5 linked regions of the Homo sapiens genome follow. The protein of the gene in region 1 interacts with the protein of each later gene in a pairwise test. Each region holds a gene or a part of one and is shown in the gene's direction. Other genes may lie near its edges. The genes, in order: USO1, GABPB1, UTP14A, AKAP9 and GAK.

What was found.
Region 2: the proteins of USO1 (region 1) and GABPB1 interact in a two-hybrid assay, tested with the Homo sapiens proteins (one large-scale study listed by BioGRID and IntAct).
Region 3: the proteins of USO1 (region 1) and UTP14A interact in a two-hybrid assay, tested with the Homo sapiens proteins (one large-scale study listed by BioGRID).
Region 4: the proteins of USO1 (region 1) and AKAP9 interact in binary tests that used the Homo sapiens proteins (3 or more experiments, as listed by UniProt).
Region 5: the proteins of USO1 (region 1) and GAK interact in a two-hybrid assay, tested with the Homo sapiens proteins (one large-scale study listed by BioGRID and IntAct).

Annotation. Positions count from the first base shown.
Region 1 is NC_000004.12:75,808,070-75,811,587, forward strand, and holds part of USO1 (general vesicular transport factor p115), read left to right. Parts: intron 1-883; coding exon 884-982; intron 983-2,362; coding exon 2,363-2,470; intron 2,471-3,518. UniProt on the Homo sapiens protein: General vesicular transport factor required for intercisternal transport in the Golgi stack; it is required for transcytotic fusion and/or subsequent binding of the vesicles to the target membrane.
Region 2 is NC_000015.10:50,278,693-50,282,210, reverse strand, and holds part of GABPB1 (GA-binding protein subunit beta-1 isoform beta 2), read left to right. Parts: intron 1-3,426; coding exon 3,427-3,518.
Region 3 is NC_000023.11:129,923,148-129,926,665, forward strand, and holds part of UTP14A (U3 small nucleolar RNA-associated protein 14 homolog A), read left to right. Parts: intron 1-1,647; coding exon 1,648-2,048; intron 2,049-2,771; coding exon 2,772-2,965; intron 2,966-3,092; coding exon 3,093-3,192; intron 3,193-3,518. UniProt on the Homo sapiens protein: May be required for ribosome biogenesis.
Region 4 is NC_000007.14:91,947,344-91,950,861, forward strand, and holds part of AKAP9 (A-kinase anchor protein 9), read left to right. Parts: intron 1-3,518. UniProt on the Homo sapiens protein: Scaffolding protein that assembles several protein kinases and phosphatases on the centrosome and Golgi apparatus. Required to maintain the integrity of the Golgi apparatus. Required for microtubule nucleation at the cis-side of the Golgi apparatus.
Region 5 is NC_000004.12:866,311-869,828, reverse strand, and holds part of GAK (cyclin-G-associated kinase), read left to right. Parts: intron 1-1,143; coding exon 1,144-1,290; intron 1,291-2,396; coding exon 2,397-2,873; intron 2,874-3,294; coding exon 3,295-3,465; intron 3,466-3,518. UniProt on the Homo sapiens protein: Associates with cyclin G and CDK5. Seems to act as an auxilin homolog that is involved in the uncoating of clathrin-coated vesicles by Hsc70 in non-neuronal cells. Expression oscillates slightly during the cell cycle, peaking at G1.

The DNA of each region.
Region 1 (3,518 bases):
CACTTACTCAGTGTCTCCAGACATTACCAAATGTCCTCGGGGATGGGGGGATATGGGGAGAAATCACTCCTGCTGAGAGCCATTGTTATAATTGCCTTTCTTTTCCTGTACTTTTTTTGGGGGAGGAGAAGGTGAGAAGTTTGGAAATTCAACATTAATAAAAACTTTCAATTAATACCCTGGTTTTCATTATAGTACTACTGCTTTCATCTGTGTTTGGTGGTCCCTAGTCTAAAGATGTCCTGTTTTGCCCAGCCACATAATAAACCTCAAGTCTTCATCCAGGAAAGGAGGAACGGTTGCCTGATGCCTAAGATTGAGACAGGGATCTGATGATCTATTTCTTAAATAGTCTTTTAACCAGGCCTGCAGTTTTTAACCTCATTTTTATCTGTACTTCCAGTGGTATCTAATGATACCAGTTCCTAACCTTTCTGGTAGTTAATGCATTCATTGTAAGTCAGGTACTATCTTAACTTTCTCAGTGGTCATCCTAGCTTTCAGCTTTCTCAGGTGTGCTGATTTAGTTATCACTGTTACTTGCTTTCTCAAAATTCCCCAATTATATTGCTCTCTTCTCTTACTGTTCTTGTTTTTGTAGGTTTCTTCCTCTCTCCCTCCCATCCTTCCTTTCTTTCTTCCTTCTCCCCTCCCTTCCTGTCTTTTATGATTTTTTTTTTTTGCATGGGATTTCAGGAGGGAGCAGAGGTAAATGAATGTGTTGAATTTTCCATCTTGAACCCAAAATTCAAGAATAGTTCTTTAGAGTTAGATTTTAAAAGTAGGAGGTTGTAAATCATTTTTTTAAATGTCTCCCTGTAAATATTTCCTTGATGAATTTAATACCATTTAATGTTATGACTCAACTATTTTTGTCTCTTAGGAACTGGCAACTTTAAAGTCTCAGTTAAACTCACAATCTGTGGAGATCACCAAACTACAGACAGAAAAGCAGGAACTGTTACAGAAAACAGAAGCGTTTGTAAGTATTTTCTCTTTTTTCTCTGGAAGGTAATAAAGACAAGGTTGATGTATTATTTCTTAGCCACAATTAAAAAGAAACAAATTCATCAGATAGCACCTTCTCTTTAGATTACTTACTAGCCGGTATTCTAGTAACATAGGCTTCATGTTCATGGTGACAGTCGTTTTATAGTCAGTCTCACCAGATTAGTTTATTCAGTTACTTAATAGTTTATTTTGCTGGTATTACATTCTATTTCTGTCCCTTCAGTCCAAGCTGGCAGTTTTTCTGCTGTCATAAAATATTCAGAAACCGTTGTTGTTTTCTCCAGAACATTCCTTCTCATACTTTTGCAATATAGGTAGACTGAGAATTTTCCAAATCTTCTAATTCTGATTCTTTTTTGCTTAGCAATTTCTTCTTCAATTTATCTCTCTTCTCTCACATTTAACTTTAAGCAACAAGGAGAAACCAGGCTGCACTCCAACACTTTGCTTAGAAACCTCAGTAAAATATCCAAATTCATTATTTACAAGTTCTGCTGTCCACAAAACACTGCAACACTATTTGGCCAAGTTATTTGCCACTTTATAACAAGGATTGCCTTTCCTCCGATTCCCAGTAACATGTTCCTAGTTTTCATCTGAGACCTCACCAAAAGCACCTTTAACATTCATATTTCTGCCAGCATTCTTCTTCTCACTATGACCATGAAGCTTCTTTCCAACTCCGCTCTTTTCTTTCTGAGCTCTCACCAGAATCACTTAATGTCCATATCTCTAGCAACAGTCTCATCAAGGTAATGCAGGCTTTGTCTACCATGCACCTCTCTTACAGCCTCTACTCATTACACAGTTCCAAAGCTACTTCCACATTTTTAGATATTTGTTGTGTCACTACCCGACTTCCTAGTATTTTAGAAAAAAGACAAGGAAAGACTGAAAAACTGTTATTCAGGAGTGTCTCCTCTAGCACTTGAGAAAAGATTTGCATTTCACTAATAATGATATTTGGCTCAATTTATCTACCTATCTAGGGTGGTAGTATGGACTTATAGGAAATTTATGAAGGAAAGGCTTTGAAAAATATTCTGTGTTTATTAAATGCTGGGTTACAGTTACATTAGAGCTGCCTTGCTGATTACTTTTCTGGGCTTACCTACCTTGAGGCACCTTAGCCCAGCCTTCCTCGTACTCTTATGAGATTTGATGCTCTTCCATGTGGGAACAGCTCATCTGACAGTGGAGAGCACTTTGTTGCACATAAATACATAAGGAATTATATTTTCTGTTAGTGAAAGTAAAATATCAAAATGGCAAAAAAATTAAATAACCCTTTGGGAGTTCATATTGATTGTAATGTTTAAGAGACATCTTTTTTTCCAATTTCTAATTTCAGGCAAAATCAGTTGAGGTACAAGGAGAGACCGAGACTATAATAGCCACCAAAACTACTGATGTAGAAGGAAGACTGTCAGCATTATTACAAGAGACCAAAGAGTTAAAGGTTTGTTTTTGGTGCAACTTTTATTTACTGCATATGATATGAAATGAACTCTAGGAAATTTTATATATCTTTCAAATTCTTAGATTTATGAAGAAAGCTAATGATGTGTAATTTTATCTCACAACATTTTCACTCCTATATTGATGATTTAAGATGGCACAAATGAAAATTTTTTTTGTTTTGGGTTTTTTTGTTTTGTTTTGTTTTTTTGAGATGGAGTTTCGCTCTGTCACCAGACTGGAGTACAGTGGCGCGATCTCGGCTCACCACAACCTCTGCCTCCCAGGTTCAAGCAATTCTCCCGCCTCAACCTACTGAGTAGCTGGGACTACAGGCGTGCACCACCACACCCAGCTAATTTTTGTATTTTTAGTACAGACAGGGTTTCACCACGTTGGCCAGGATGGTCTCCATCTCTTGACCTCGTGATCCACCTGCCTTGGCCTCCCAAAGTGCTGGAATGCTGGAATTACAGGTGTGAGCTGCCGCACCCAGCCACAAATGAAGCTTTTAAAATACTATTTCAAATAATGATAATATGTAAGATAAGCATACATATGCATGTACTATAAAAGTAAAATTTATTGAAAATATTTTTGTTTTCTTTCTTTCTTTTTCTTTTTTTTTTTGAGAGAGAGTCTCAATTTTGTGTTCCAGGCTGGATGGAGTGCAGTGGCATGATCTCAGCTCACTGCAGCCTCCACCTCCCAGATTCAAGCGATTCTCCTGCCTCAGCCTCCTGAGTAGCTGGGATTTCAGGCACCTGCCAACATGCTCAGCTAATTTTTGTACTTTTAGTAGAGACGAGGATTCGCCATGTTGGCCAGGCTGGTCTCAAACTCCTGACCTCAGGTGATCTGCCCGCATTGGCCCCCCCCAAAGTGCTGGGATTACAGGCGTGAGCCACCACACCCGGCCTGTGTTTTCTTTTTAAGATCAACATCTAATCACAATAACAAAACAAGGAGTACAAATTTAGCTAATACACAAGCCACATGTAGGCTTTCCATAAGCCGTGGAACATAGGCACATTAAATCCTGTCAGCAT
Region 2 (3,518 bases), on another chromosome or scaffold:
ATTTATTTTTTGAGACAGGGTCTCACTGTGTTGCCTAGGCTGGAGTGCAGTGGTGCAATCACAGTTCACTGCAGCCTTGACCTCCCTGGGCTCAAGCAATCCTCCCACCTCACAGCCTCTTGAGTAGCTGGGACTACAGGCTACACCACCATGCCCAGCCAATTTTTGTATTTTTTTGTAGAGATAAGGTTTTGTGGCTGGGCATGGTAATTCATGCCTGTAATCCCAGCACTTTGGGAGACTGAAGTGGGAGGATCACTTGAGGTCAGGATTTTGAGATGAGGTTTTGCCCTGTTGCCCAGGCTAGTCTCTCACTCCTAGGCTCAAGCAATCCACCTGCCTTGGCCTTCCAAAATACTAGGATTACAGGCATGAGCCACTGCATGCCCAGCACCCAGTCTATATCTCTTTTTTCTAAGGCTGGAGAAGGCAAAGTTTTTTTTCATAAATGGCCAGGTACCAAATATTTTTGGCTTTGTGGGCCCTACAGTCTGTCAACTACTCAATTCTGCCATTGTAGTGAAAGCAGCCATAGACAATTTGAAAATGGGTGGGTGTGGCTGTATTTCAATAAAACTTTATTTATAAAAACAAAATCATACTTGTCATATTTGGCTCAGGGCAGTTAGAAAATTGATGTTTACACACAAGCAAATAGCTCACATATCCTGCCCAGTTTCTCTCTTTTAAAAAACATTTAGGCCGGGCGCAGTGGCTCACGCCTGTAATCCTAGCACTTTGGGAGGCCAAGGCGGGCAGATCACGAGGTCAGGAGATTGAGACCATCCTGGCTAACATGGTGAAACCCCGTCTCTACTAAAAATACAAAAAATTAGCTGAGCATGGTGGCGTGCGCCTATAGTCCCAGCTACTCAGGAGGCTGATGCAGGAGAATTGCTTGAATCCGGGAGGTGGAGGTTGCAGTGAGCTGAGATAATGCCACTGCACTCCAGCCTGGGCAACAGAGCAAGACTCCGTCTCAAAAAGAAAAAAAAATTATAGTGTTAATTATACTTTCAATCTTAAAGATTAAATGTATTCAGCATGCAGTGCTAATGATCTTTGTCTTCTAGGTTTTATAGAATTAGCCAAAAAATGCTGTGAAAATGAGTTTTTTATTTCACCTGGTAGGCAGAAGGAAACTATCTTTTCATTTTTATCAAGATAAATTGTACTTCTTGAAGTTAAAATATGCAGTATGGAAAATAGGATTAGGTTCTTTTCACTGTTAGACTACCTCACTCGGTTTGCTTTCATCTTCTGCAATAATTGTGAATCCTTTCCTGACTCTAAATGTTAATAAATAGGTAATACTAGAAGATGCTTTAGAGTTAACCTCTTCCAATATTTCCTGCTAAATCAAGGTAAATTTATACCCATATTCAAAACTTTGGCTACCAAAGGATTGCTCTTATTTTTCACATAATGTAAGTTTTTGTTTGTTTTCTCTTTTTTCTTTTTTTTTTCTTTTGAGACAAGGTCTTGCTCTGTCACCCAGGCTGGAGTGCGGTGGAGTTGCTCACTGCAGCCTCAACCTCCTGGGCTCAAGTGATCCTCCTGCCTCAGCTTCCCAAGTAGCTGGGACTACAGGCGCATACCACCATGCCCATCTAAGTTTTGTATTTTTTGTAGGGGTTTTGCCATGTTGCCCAGGCTTGTCTCAAATTCCTGGGCTTAAGTGATCTGCCTGCCTTGGCCTCTCAAAGTGCTGGCATTAAGGTGTGAGTCACTGTGCCCAGCCACACGTAAAATTTTAAAACACGTGCATGGCTGTGGACACTCCTGCCAGAGCTGTGGTCTAGCTCCTGGGAAGTAACATCCAACCTTCCACCCCTCACCCCTTCCATTGGTGTCCTTAAAGTCCTGCACAGTTTGTAGCCAGGGTACTGGCATTGATTGCTTACCTTGGACTCATCCTAGGTTGTCTTTTCTGACTTGTTCCTATCTTGGCTGGATTTAGGATAAGAGGAGGGGAGAAGAAGTGTTGGGAGGCAGCAGGATAGGGCCTGGGCATTGCTTAAACTGGGAGTAAGGGACATTCCTTTCTTCTACTTGTACATTTTGTGTAATTGGAAGATTTGGAGATCTTTTGTCTCCAAATGAATCACTCCCACATCTGGTGGGCCCATGAGAAAAAGAAATGTTGGATCTAGCTTCATTCCCATTGTGGGGAAGGAAGTGGAATCACAGAAAGGCAGGAGGATTATACATGCTCCTGCTTGTGGACCAACCATATGAATAGAGAAGGTGAGGAATCCTTTGGTGTTCACAATGGGCAGGAGTCAAGGAGGCAGAGGATATACATAATAGGATATATAGAAAGAGAATCTCATACTGTGCCTCCCCAGTGGTCGGCCAACCACTTACCTTTAGTTCTCTCTGGCCAAGTGTCTTGTCCACTGTGGACCTATCATTCTTGTGATAGTCCGACCCCTGGCCTTCACCCCACTCAGAGGTCCTGGGCATCTGTGATGAGGTTGCCTCATTCCTAAGACCTGGAAACTACCCTTGAGCTTTGGTCTGTGGAGGTTGAGCTTTTGTCCTTGTGCTCACTTAGAGGTGTGGGAATGGGTTCGTTGAAATGTTTCTCCTTGTTTTTCCTGCAATAACTGAATGGGGCAGAGTGAGGAGGAAGAGGAGAAACAATACCGTTTTCATTGGATTGGATTTGTGTTTCAGCTCTCAATTTGTTGAGGAATTTAATGCATATATTTTATACCTATATAATTTAATCATTGATAATTTAGTATTTTATTGGTTTATGAAATAGTATAATTTAGGAAATACTGATCTTGATCAGCACTCTTCATTTTAAAGGTGAATTATCTTGCTTGCTATTGTAAATGAAAATAGTTTTAAAAGCAGTAATGTTAGAACCCTATAAATCCAACTTCTTACTATGTGACCTTGGGAGAGCTACATCATCCCTGAGCATCATTTTTCTCATCTTTAACTTGTGCATAATATCTGTCTTAGATGCTTATTGTTGGAAATCACCCTGTTTACTCATATAGTGGGTGCTCAGTAAAATTGTTTTATAATTATTACCTTTTGGTAAGAGCACCACAAATGGAAATATAAAGAGGTATGGTTGTATATTTCCCTCTTAAAAACTCTTCACTAGTTTTTGTAGTACATATAAAAGTACAGGTGCCCAGTTTGGAGTCTTTCTGTTAGTCTTATTTCTAAATAGGAAAATAATTTCCTTGCAGTCAGAAATTAATCCATATCTCATAATGTGGAGCACAAAATTAGGGACTTAAATGTTAGTGAATTGATTGAAAAGGCAAGATGTCTAGGAAATTTCAATAGGTGGCTGCTTTTAGCTACTACGGTTTTTTTTTTTAATTTGAAGGATGCATGCTTATATGTATTAATAATGTATTTTTGCAAAAATTAAAAAAAAAACCCTCTTCTTTTAATTAGGAGAGAGAAGCTCTTCAGAAACAGCTGGATGAAGCAAATCGAGAAGCACAAAAATATCGACAGCAGCTCCTAAAGAAAGAACAGGAAGCAGA
Region 3 (3,518 bases), on another chromosome or scaffold:
GTACATGTGTCCAAAGGCCAGATCTAAGGAGCTACAATGGCTTCATGCCAAAGCTAGACAGCAGGATCAACTTGGGAATGGAGGCAACTTGAGTCAATGAAAAAGACAGTTTAGAAGCATGTCACTGCCAGGTTTCCCTCCAGACTGTTTTGAGACAGGTCTCTGTCATACAGGCTGGAGTGCAGTGGTGCAACCTCGGCTCACTGCAAGCTCCACCTCCCAGGTTCAAGCAATCCTCCTGCCTCAGCCTGCAAGTAGCTGGGATTACAGGCATATGCCACCACGCCCAGCTAATTTTTGTATTTTTAGTAGAGACAGGGTTTTGCCATGTTGGTCAGGCTGGTCTCAAACTCCTGGCTTCAAGTGAATCACCCATTTCGGCCTCCCAGAGTGCTGGGATTACAGGTGTGAGCCACTGTGCCAAGCCAGCCCCTCCAGACTCTTGAGACTAGTGTTATTTGCTCAGATGTTGCCAGTGAAAGTGTGAGCTACATCCACTGGATAAAGCAGCTACTTCATCCCTTGACTCAGCCACAGCAGATTATGAAATACTGCTTTAAGATATGGAGTAGAAATTCTTGAGTCAAGATGAAAATCCTGGATAGGGTTTTTACAAGCAGTGAAGCATAAATTACAATGAAGTTACATTGAGAAGCCACCTGTTAAAGTGGCTTCCTTTTTTAAAATTTGGAACTTGGGGCAATCTTCCCAAGCAGGGTTTACTGCACGAGGAACTTAAGCCACAGTCCCAGTTATACAGTGGATCATTGGCAAAGCTGGGAATAGGACCCAGGACGTCTGCTTCCAATATGCTACTTTTTTTTTTTTTTTGAGACGTCTTGCCCTGTTGCCCAGGCTAGTATGCAGTGGCACAGTCACAGCTTCCTGCAGCCTTGACCTTCTGGCTCCAGCAATCCTCCCAGCTTAGCCTCCCAAGTAGGTGGGACTACAGATCCACACCGCCATGCCTGGAAATTTTTTGTTGTTGTTGGAGGGGTGGAGGTGGTAGAGATGAGTTCTCACTATGTTGTTCAGGCTGGTCTCGAACTCCTGGGCTCAAGCTATCCTGCCCCCTTGGCCTCCCAAAGTGCTGGCATACAGGCGTGAGCCACCATATCCAACATCTCACATGCTACTTTTTTTTTTTTTTTTTTTTTGAGACGGAGTCTCGCTCTGTCACCTAGGCTGGAGTGCAGTGGCACAATCTCGGCTCACTGCAACCTCTGCCTCCCTGGTTCAAGTGATTCTCCTGCCTCAGCCTCCTGAGTAGCTGGACTACAGGCACATGCCACCATGCCCAGCTAATTTTTTGTATTTTTAGTAGAGATGGGGTTTCACCGTGTTAGCCAGGATGGTCTCGATCTCCTGACCTCATGATCTGCCCGCCTCGGCCTCCCAAAGTGCTGGGATTACAGGTGTGAGCCACCGCACCTGGCCACATGCTACTTTTAATTACCAAACTCCGTTGCCTGCTATGATTAGTGTACTGTCTAGGAGATTCAATGTACAGAATCTTCTTTTCCCCGTTTGTCCTTTTTATAATGTCTTATGTGGTACCTAGCACTTGGTGGGTGCTCAACAAATGCTTACCGACCAGACAACGTACAAACCTCATTTTCTGACAGTTTTCATTCTTTTTTCCCCCAGATTCTGGCAGCCAGGAGGTGCTGTCTGAATTGAGAGTACTATCTCAGAAATTGAAGGAAAACCATCAGTCCAGGAAGCAAAAAGCAAGTTCAGAGGGGACTATTCCCCAGGTCCAGAGAGAGGAACCTGCCCCAGAAGAAGAGGAGCCCCTGTTGCTACAGAGACCAGAGAGAGTACAGACGCTGGAAGAGCTAGAAGAGCTGGGAAAAGAAGAATGTTTTCAAAATAAGGAGCTTCCCAGACCTGTGTTAGAAGGGCAGCAGTCAGAGAGGACCCCAAATAATCGCCCTGATGCCCCTAAGGAGAAGAAAAAGAAGGAGCAAATGATCGACCTACAGAACCTCCTAACCACACAATCTCCCTCCGTGAAGTCTTTGGCAGTTCCCACAATAGAGGAGCTGGTGAGCAGAGCCAGGGTGGTGGGCCATTGTTCAGAAAGTGTCGTTCTTGCGCAAGGAGTAATGAAGCTTTGTTTTGCTGGGGGCACATTTCAGTAGTTTAGAGGTCCAGAATAGTATAGGGCCAGGCTAGTCCCAGTGACGTTTTAATAGATGCAGATATATGGGTGCTGCCAAGACCCCTATTTCCGAAAGCCTGATCCACAAAAACTCCTCTGGGGTGACTCTAAAACTGCTCTCAGAGGTAAGAGGGAGTAACTCAGAGTTCTGACCAGATCCCAGGCAGGACAACTTGAAGGTGAGTCATTGAACTGTTGCGAAAGTTTTATTCAGTGGGATCTCAGATGGTCTAAGACTCCCCAGTTAATCTGAAACTTAAAGTGAAGCGTCCTGGCACCTGTCTTTTCAGGGATATAAGCTGGAGGAAGCCTACAGTCTGGCCACTTAGAGCTCCTGCTGCTAACACGGGCCATTCCTTCCTCCACCCTGCAGCTTCCTTACTGAAAAGTTTAAAATTGTGTCATATGATAATGAGCTAGGGATATTTACCCTAGAGGGAAGAAAATTTGAGCATGATTGGCTGTGCACTGGTTTGTATCGCAAGACCATCATTGTTCAGCACTTCCCCCTAGGGGGCGCTAAAATGTCACGACCCGAAATTCAAGCGTTCTCGCCATGAACCACAGCTCATAAGCCAAGCTGTAGCTCTCGCTTGTTTCTTCCCAGGAAGATGAAGAGGAGAGAAACCATAGGCAGATGATAAAGGAAGCTTTTGCTGGGGATGATGTCATCAGAGATTTCTTGAAAGAGAAGAGGGAAGCTGTGGAGGCGAGTAAGCCAAAGGACGTGGACCTGACACTACCTGGCTGGGGCGAGTGGGGTGGTGTGGGCCTAAAGCCCAGTGCCAAGAAAAGACGCCGGTAAGAATGCCGAAGAAAGTCTGTCAAAAGGGCACCGGGTTCTCCCCTCGCCCTTCGGTGTCCTCCCTACCCTTTTGACTAAGTCCTTAATGCTCCTAGTCAGATGTCCTGTTGTTTTGCTTTCCAGGTTTCTCATTAAAGCCCCTGAGGGTCCTCCAAGAAAAGATAAGAATTTGCCAAATGTGATTATCAATGAGAAGCGCAACATCCACGCAGCTGCTCATCAGGTGAGAGCTTAGAGAGCTCTTTAGCTGCCTGCTTGTTACTGCCTGGCTCTCTTGCTTGAGAGGAGTATTCTAGTGATCTGTAGTCAAGAGAGACGTGTGATCTTGACCGCAGAATCAAATCTGTTGTTTTCACTGAATGGCTGTTAGATTTATCATTTCAGATAGACTACGCTGTTTTAATTACTGGCCAGGAAAAAAGTTTAGAGTCAAGGTAATGCTCAAACAGAGGCTATAAGGTTTAAGCTGTAGCTTAAGAAAAATGAAGACAAACCGGTACTTGTTCAGGAGAATGAGAAGATTGTAAGTTGTGTCACATGATAATGAGC
Region 4 (3,518 bases), on another chromosome or scaffold:
CATTTTTTTTTCCCCCCGAGATGGAGTCTCACTCTGTCACCCAGGCTGGAGTGCAGTGGCACGATCTCGGCTCACTGCAACCTCCACCTCCTGGGTTCTAGCTATTCTCCTGCCTCAGCCTCCCGAGTAGCTGGGACTACAGGCGCCCACCACCACACCCGGCTAGGTTTTTATTTTTAGTAGAGACAGGGTTTCACCATATTGGCCAGGCTGGTCTCAAACTCCTGACCTTGTGATCCGTCCACCTTGGCCTCCCAAAGTGCTGGGATTACAGGCGTGAGCAACCGCGCCCGGCCGCAAACATTTATTTAAATGATCACAAATTCTGTGCCTTATTGTCTGTTGGAATAATCTTATGATGTGTACCTCAACAGGTGTTTTGAAGGATAAATGAAATAATGGTTGGGAGCTTTTTGAGTTCTCTAGGTGCTAGATATAAAGAAGCTATAATTTTTTTTAATTGAGGTGAAATTCATAAGCAAAATTAACCATCTTTAAGTGAACTTAACACAGTGGCTTAACACAATCTTATGCAACTACTGCTTCTGTCTACTTCCCAAACATCTTTCCATCTCAAAATATAACCCTGTGCCCATTAAGCAGATATTCTTCATTGCTTCTTCCCTCTAGCCACTAACAATCACCAACGCACTCTCTGGATTTACCAGTTGTAGATATTTAATATGAAAGGAATCATATAATATGTGACCCTTTGTGTCTGGCTTCTTTCACTTAGTATGTTTTCAAGGTTCATCCATTTTGCTGCATATATCAGTACTTCATTCCTTTTTATGGCTGAATAATATTCCATTGTATGTATATACCATAATTTGTCCAATGATAGGCATTTGGGTTGTTTCTGTCTTTTGGCTATTGTGAATAGTGCTGCTGTGAACATTTGTATGGATGTATTTGAGTACCTGTTTTCATTTCTCTTGGGTATATACCTAGTAGTAGAACTGAGCAAGGTCATATGGTAGTTATATTTCAACTTTTTGAGGAACTGCCAAACTGTTTCCATAGTGACTGTACCATTTTACCTTCCCATCAGCAATGTATAGGACATTCCAATTTTCCCATAACCTCATTAACAGTTGTGTTTTCTGTTTTTTTTGTTTGTTTGTTTTGTTTTTTTGTTTTTTTAATACTCATCCTTGTGGGTATTAAGTGGTTTCTAATTGTGGTTTTGGTTTGTATTTTCCTAATGAATAATGATATTGAGTATCATCTTTTAATGCACTTTTTGGCCACTTGTAGATTTCTTTTTTTTTTTTTTTTTTTTTTTGAGATGGAGTTTTGCTCTTGTCTCCCAGGCTTGAGTGCAATGGCGCAACCTCAGCTCACTGCAACCTCCACCTCCTGGGTTCAAGTGATTCTCCTGCCTCAGCCTCCCTAGTAGATGGGATTACAGGCATCCACCACCATGCCCGATTAATTTTTTTGTATTTTTAGCAGAGATGGGGTTTCACCATGTTGGCCAGGCTGGTCTTGAACTCCTGACCTCAGGTGATCTGCCCGCCTCAGCCTCCCCAGTAGCTGTGATTACAGGCATCCACCACCATGCCCGATTAATTTTTTTGTATTTTTAGCAGAAATGGGATTTCACCATGTTGGCCAGGCTGGTCTTGAACTCCTGACCTCAGGTGATCTGCCCACCTCGGCCTCCCAAAGTGCTGGGATTACAGGCCTGAGCCACTGCGCCTAGCCCATTTGTAGATCTTCTTTAGAGAAATGTCTATTAATATCCCTTGCCCATTTTTTAATTGGGTTGTTACCAACTTCTTTTATCTAATATTAATTATATATGTATATAAAATATATATATATCCTTTCCGTATGTGTGGAGAGAGAGAGAACGTGTGCACTCAAGCACCAGAGAGGAATGGGTAGAAATACGTATCCCCAGTGGGATTATCTTCCATATATATATATTTTTAGGCTTTTTGGGCTTTGCCAAAATTTAAATTGTTGCTTCCTTTGAGTGATAGGTTCTTGGTGAGTTGATAACAGCATGATGCTGAAGCTTGATTTCTTTGTTGGCCAGTGAGTCATTCCATTCCATGAGCAGCTGTTTTACAAGTGCATGCAGTTGGTTAAAGGGGCACCTGTTGGATTTTTGGCTTGATCATTGCCAGTCCATTTACACTGTGAGAAAAAAGTAACTTAGTGTTCAAAAATGAAAAGACCTGTCATTTTAAACATGGGGGATCTGTAGCTACTTCACTAGTATGAGATGTCTTTGTTGTCATATTGACACCCCTTTTATTTTTTGTCTTAGTCATCACCAAACTGTAACTTACAACACTTAGTGCCCTTCTAGGTACATTGCATAAAGCTTTGGTTGATTTTTGCATGGGTTTAACAGTATTCAAAAGTGTTCAATATTCAGAGTATTCAAAAATTTAACATTATTTCAGGAGTAGTTTTGCTTAGGTTCTTTGTTTAAATTTATAGATTCTTTTGTAATATGTAAAATTCCTTTTTCCTCCTTGTTCACTAACAATGTAGTGTTTGTTTTCAGTTACCATCAGAGTTAAGATTCTTATTGTGGTTTACTGTTCTCTGAGATTTTTGTGTGGTGTGAAAGTTTCTCTGTAAAAGTCTAAGAGTTTTTCCCCCTTTTAAGAAATAATTTCTTAAAGCCCCCAAGATTATTGTTTTGATGATTCAGAACTATAATCAACTTTACTATACAAAGTCCTAATCTGTAAAGATTGATTTCATAGGTTCTCTGATTTACAGATCTCTGAAAAACTAATAGGGTATAAAATCTAGGCTCTCTCTCCTATTAGTACTGAACACACTATAAAATTCCTTGTTGTTTACTAGGATTGCTCATTGTGGGCTCTGTGGTTAGGCTGTATTTATTCCTCCAGGGTCTCACTTTTTTTTTTTTTTTTTTTTGAGACAGAGTCTTGCTCTGTCACCCAGGCTGGAGTGCAGTGGCACTATCTCGGCTCAGTGCAAGCTCTGCCTCCCGGGTTCACGCCATTCTCCTGCCTCAGCCTCCCCAGCAGCTGGGACCACAGGTGCACGCTGCCAAGCCCGGCTAATTTTTCTGTATTTTTAGTAGAGACGGGGTTTCACTGTGTTAGCCAGTATGGTCTCAATCTCCTGACCTCATGATCCGCCTGCCTCGGCCTCCCAAAGTGCTGGGATTACAGGCGTGAGCCACAACGTCCAGGCTAGGGTCTCACTTTTATTCAAGTTAGTATTGCCTTATTAGTTGTTTCCCCAGAGAAGATAGTGACAGGGATCAATTATAACTAAAATAGTAGTTCTCCATATGTATCATGAATCAAATTTTGTGTGTGGAGACCTTGTGGGGATTGCAGTGGGCATGGGGCAGAGATCTCAGTTAATTCTTACGCCGTTTATATCCTCTACTCCATTTCTTGAGAGCCAAATAAATTAGTAGATCTTCTTCTAAATGGCAAGATATTAGAAAATATGTTAAAACTGCATTAGGAAATATCTACTAGGAGTTTATATATGAAATAATGAGTTTTGGCTGAAAG
Region 5 (3,518 bases), about 75 Mb from region 1:
ACTGTGCCTGTGTGTGTGCATTTGTGTGTACCATGCATCTCTGCTGTGTGTGCATTCGTGTGTACTGTGCATCTGTGTGTACTGTGTGCATTCATGTGTACTGTGCATCTGTGTGTGCTGTGTGTGCATTCATGTGTACCCTGCATGTGTGTATGTGCTGTGTGTGCATTCGTGTGTACTGTGCATCTGTGTGTGTGCATTCATGTGTACCCTGCATGTGTGTATGTGCTGTGTGTGCATTCGTGTGTACTGTGCATCTGTGTGTGTGCATTCATGTGTACCCTGCATGTGTGTATGTGCTGTGTGTGCATTCGTGTGTACTGTGCATCTGTGTGTGTGCATTCCTGTGTACCATGCATCTGTGTGTGCTGTGTGTGCATTCCTGTGTACTGTGCATTTGTGCTGTGTGTGCATTCATGTGTACCGTGCATCTGTGTGTGCTTTGCATTCGTGTGTACCCTGCATGTGTGTATGTGCTGTGTGTGCATTCGTGTGTACTGTGCATCTGTGTGCTGTGTGTGCATTCATGTGTACTGTGCATCTGTGTGTGTGCTGTGTGTGCATTCATGTGTACCCTGCATCTGTGTGTGTGCTGTCTGTGCATCCGTGTGTACCATGCATCTGTGTGTGCATTCATGTGTACTGTGCATCTGTGTGTGCTGTGTGTATTCATGTGTACCCTGCATCTATGTGTGTGCTGTCTGTGCATTCGTGTATACTGTGCATCTGTGTGTGCTGTGTGTGCATTCGTGTGTACCCTGCATCTGTGTGTGTGCATTTGTGTGTACTGTGCGCCTGTGTGTGTGCTCTATGCATTCGTGTGTACCGTGCAGCTGTGTGTGTGCATTCATGTGTACCCTGCATATGTGTGGCGTTTGATGCCTCAGTGGTGGGTTCCTTGTGCGTGTTCATGTGTGCGTGTGCTGTGCCCAAGTGTGCACGCATGGCCCAGAGTGGCATCCGAGTGGATAGCAGGAATCTGTTCAGAGAGCCCCTCCCCGTCATGTCATTGGTCTGCTTTACCGATGGCCTGGCCTGCCACGGTGCTGGCGCCCGCCTGGCTGCACTTCCCAGCTCTGGGGTCAGTGTTGCCCCGAGGCTGCTGGCCAGTGCCAGTGCCCTGACGCCCTCCCTCTCCTGCAGGGAAGCCGGAGCTTCCCCGGCAGCCTGGCTCCACGGCTCAGTATGATGCTGGGGCAGGGTCCCCGGAAGCCGAACCCACAGACTCTGACTCACCGCCAAGCAGCAGCGCGGACGCCAGTCGCTTCCTGCACACGCTGGACTGGCAGGGTAGGCAGCGTCCCTGGACCTGGCCACTTGCAGAGGGCAGGCCCCTGGTCTGGAGGTGCCCCTGGGGCAGGGCAAGCGTCTTGGGAGACGGGCCTCCGGCAGAGCTGAGTTGCACCTCAGTGGGGCTGTGCACCCGGCATGTCAGCCTGTTCTTTAATGGCTCACGAGCTAAGAATGATTTCATATCTTTTTAAAGGTGAAAAAAAAAGAACATGCCCACAAAGTCTGAAATAACAACCCTCGCTCTTCATCCCAGTCTGTGGGCCTGGGGAGGCTGGCAGCATGGGCCATGCTGGCGGGGCCCCTGGGTACAGGGGAAGGGCCTGGGCGGAGGGACAGACTGTCACCACCTGGGGATCCCACACCTCTCTTTGCCCACACCCCCAGTGGGCTCCCAGCCCCTCTGAGGCTTTTCAGGAAAACACCTGGGCGCCATCACTGGACCTCACCCCAGACACACCCCAAGGGATGCACCTGCCACTTCCTGTCCCAGCACCCCTGGCCTTCCCATCGGGCTCGTCCCTTCTGCCGCCTGTTCCCAGAGCACCCTTGATTGGTGTTCCTACCCCCTAGTGCTGCCATGTGGCCCCCACTTGACTCAGCCTGAGGCACCGCAGAGGCCCAGGCGGAGAGAGCCACAGGCAGACCCTTGAGGCAGAGGCTGGAGGTGGGTGTGCTGGAGACGCCTCAGGAACAACACCCCACCGCCCGCCCAGAAGCTTCTGCAGCACTCGCCAGGGCCCTGGGCCAAGGAGGCGCTGAGGGGCCGTGCCATGGGGACATTGGTGCTGGCCATGTGGGTTCGCCAAGGCCCTGGGCTGAGGGGACGCGCCGTGGGGACCCTGGTGTTCCTGCAGCACTTGCCAAGGCCCTGGGCCGAGGAGGTGCCGAGGGGCCATGCCATGGGGACCCTGGTGCTGGCCACGTGTGTTCACCAAGGCCCTGGGCCGAGGAGGCCCTGAAGGGACGCGCCGTGGGGACCCTGGTGCTGGCCACGTGTGTTCACCAAGGCCCTGGGCCGAGGAGGCCCTGAAGGGACGCGCCGTGGGGACCCTGGTGCTGGCCGTGTGGTCTCACTAGCCTGTGGTTTTGTTTCCTTTTCGCAGAAGAGAAGGAGGCAGAGACTGGTGCAGAAAATGCCTCTTCCAAGGAGAGCGAGTCTGCCCTGATGGAGGACAGAGACGAGAGTGAGGTGTCAGATGAAGGGGGATCCCCGATCTCCAGCGAGGGCCAGGAACCCAGGGCCGACCCAGAGCCCCCCGGCCTGGCAGCAGGGCTGGTGCAGCAGGACTTGGTTTTTGAGGTGGAGACACCGGCTGTGCTGCCAGAGCCTGTGCCACAGGAAGACGGGGTCGACCTCCTGGGCCTGCACTCCGAGGTGGGCGCAGGGCCAGCTGTACCCCCGCAGGCCTGCAAGGCCCCCTCCAGCAACACCGACCTGCTCAGCTGCCTCCTTGGGCCCCCTGAGGCCGCCTCCCAGGGGCCCCCGGAGGATCTGCTCAGCGAGGACCCGCTGCTCCTGGCAAGCCCGGCCCCTCCCCTGAGCGTGCAGAGCACCCCAAGAGGAGGGCCCCCTGCCGCTGGTACGTGTTTCTGTTCTGAAGGCGAGTGGCTTCACAGTAGATGAGTGATGAGGCTGAGTCATTCTCACTGCATGGGCGTGTTTCGAAGGTGCTTGCAGGAAGGGAACGTGCCCTTCCCCCACCTCCCCCAGGAGCAGCCTCGGGGTCATGTCAGGGTTCTGTGCTGCCCACCTGAGCTCACGGGCCGGGAGCTACTGGCTTCTCCATCTCAGCAGTGTTGCTGTGTCCCTGGGAAAGTCATCCTGAGGCGTGGGGCACGGGGAGCCCCTGGGCTGACTGCCTCAGTGCCCCTGCGAGGGCAGCCGTGGGGTCTGGGCTGCCCAGCTGGAGTGGCCTCTTGGGCAGGCCTGACTCCAGAGCTGGGCTCCTTTGTCTTCAGGCAGCCGGGCTGAGTCCTCCCCATGCCCGCCTGTCCCCACAGCTGACCCCTTTGGCCCGCTTCTGCCGTCTTCAGGCAACAACTCCCAGCCCTGCTCCAATCCTGATCTCTTCGGCGAATTTCTCAATTCGGACTCTGTGACCGTCCCACCATCCTTCCCGTCTGCCCACAGTGCTCCGCCCCCATCCTGCAGCGCCGACTTCCTGCACCTGGGTAAGTGCCTCTCGCCTGGCAGCCAGCTCTCCATGGCCGCCTCCCTCAGGACC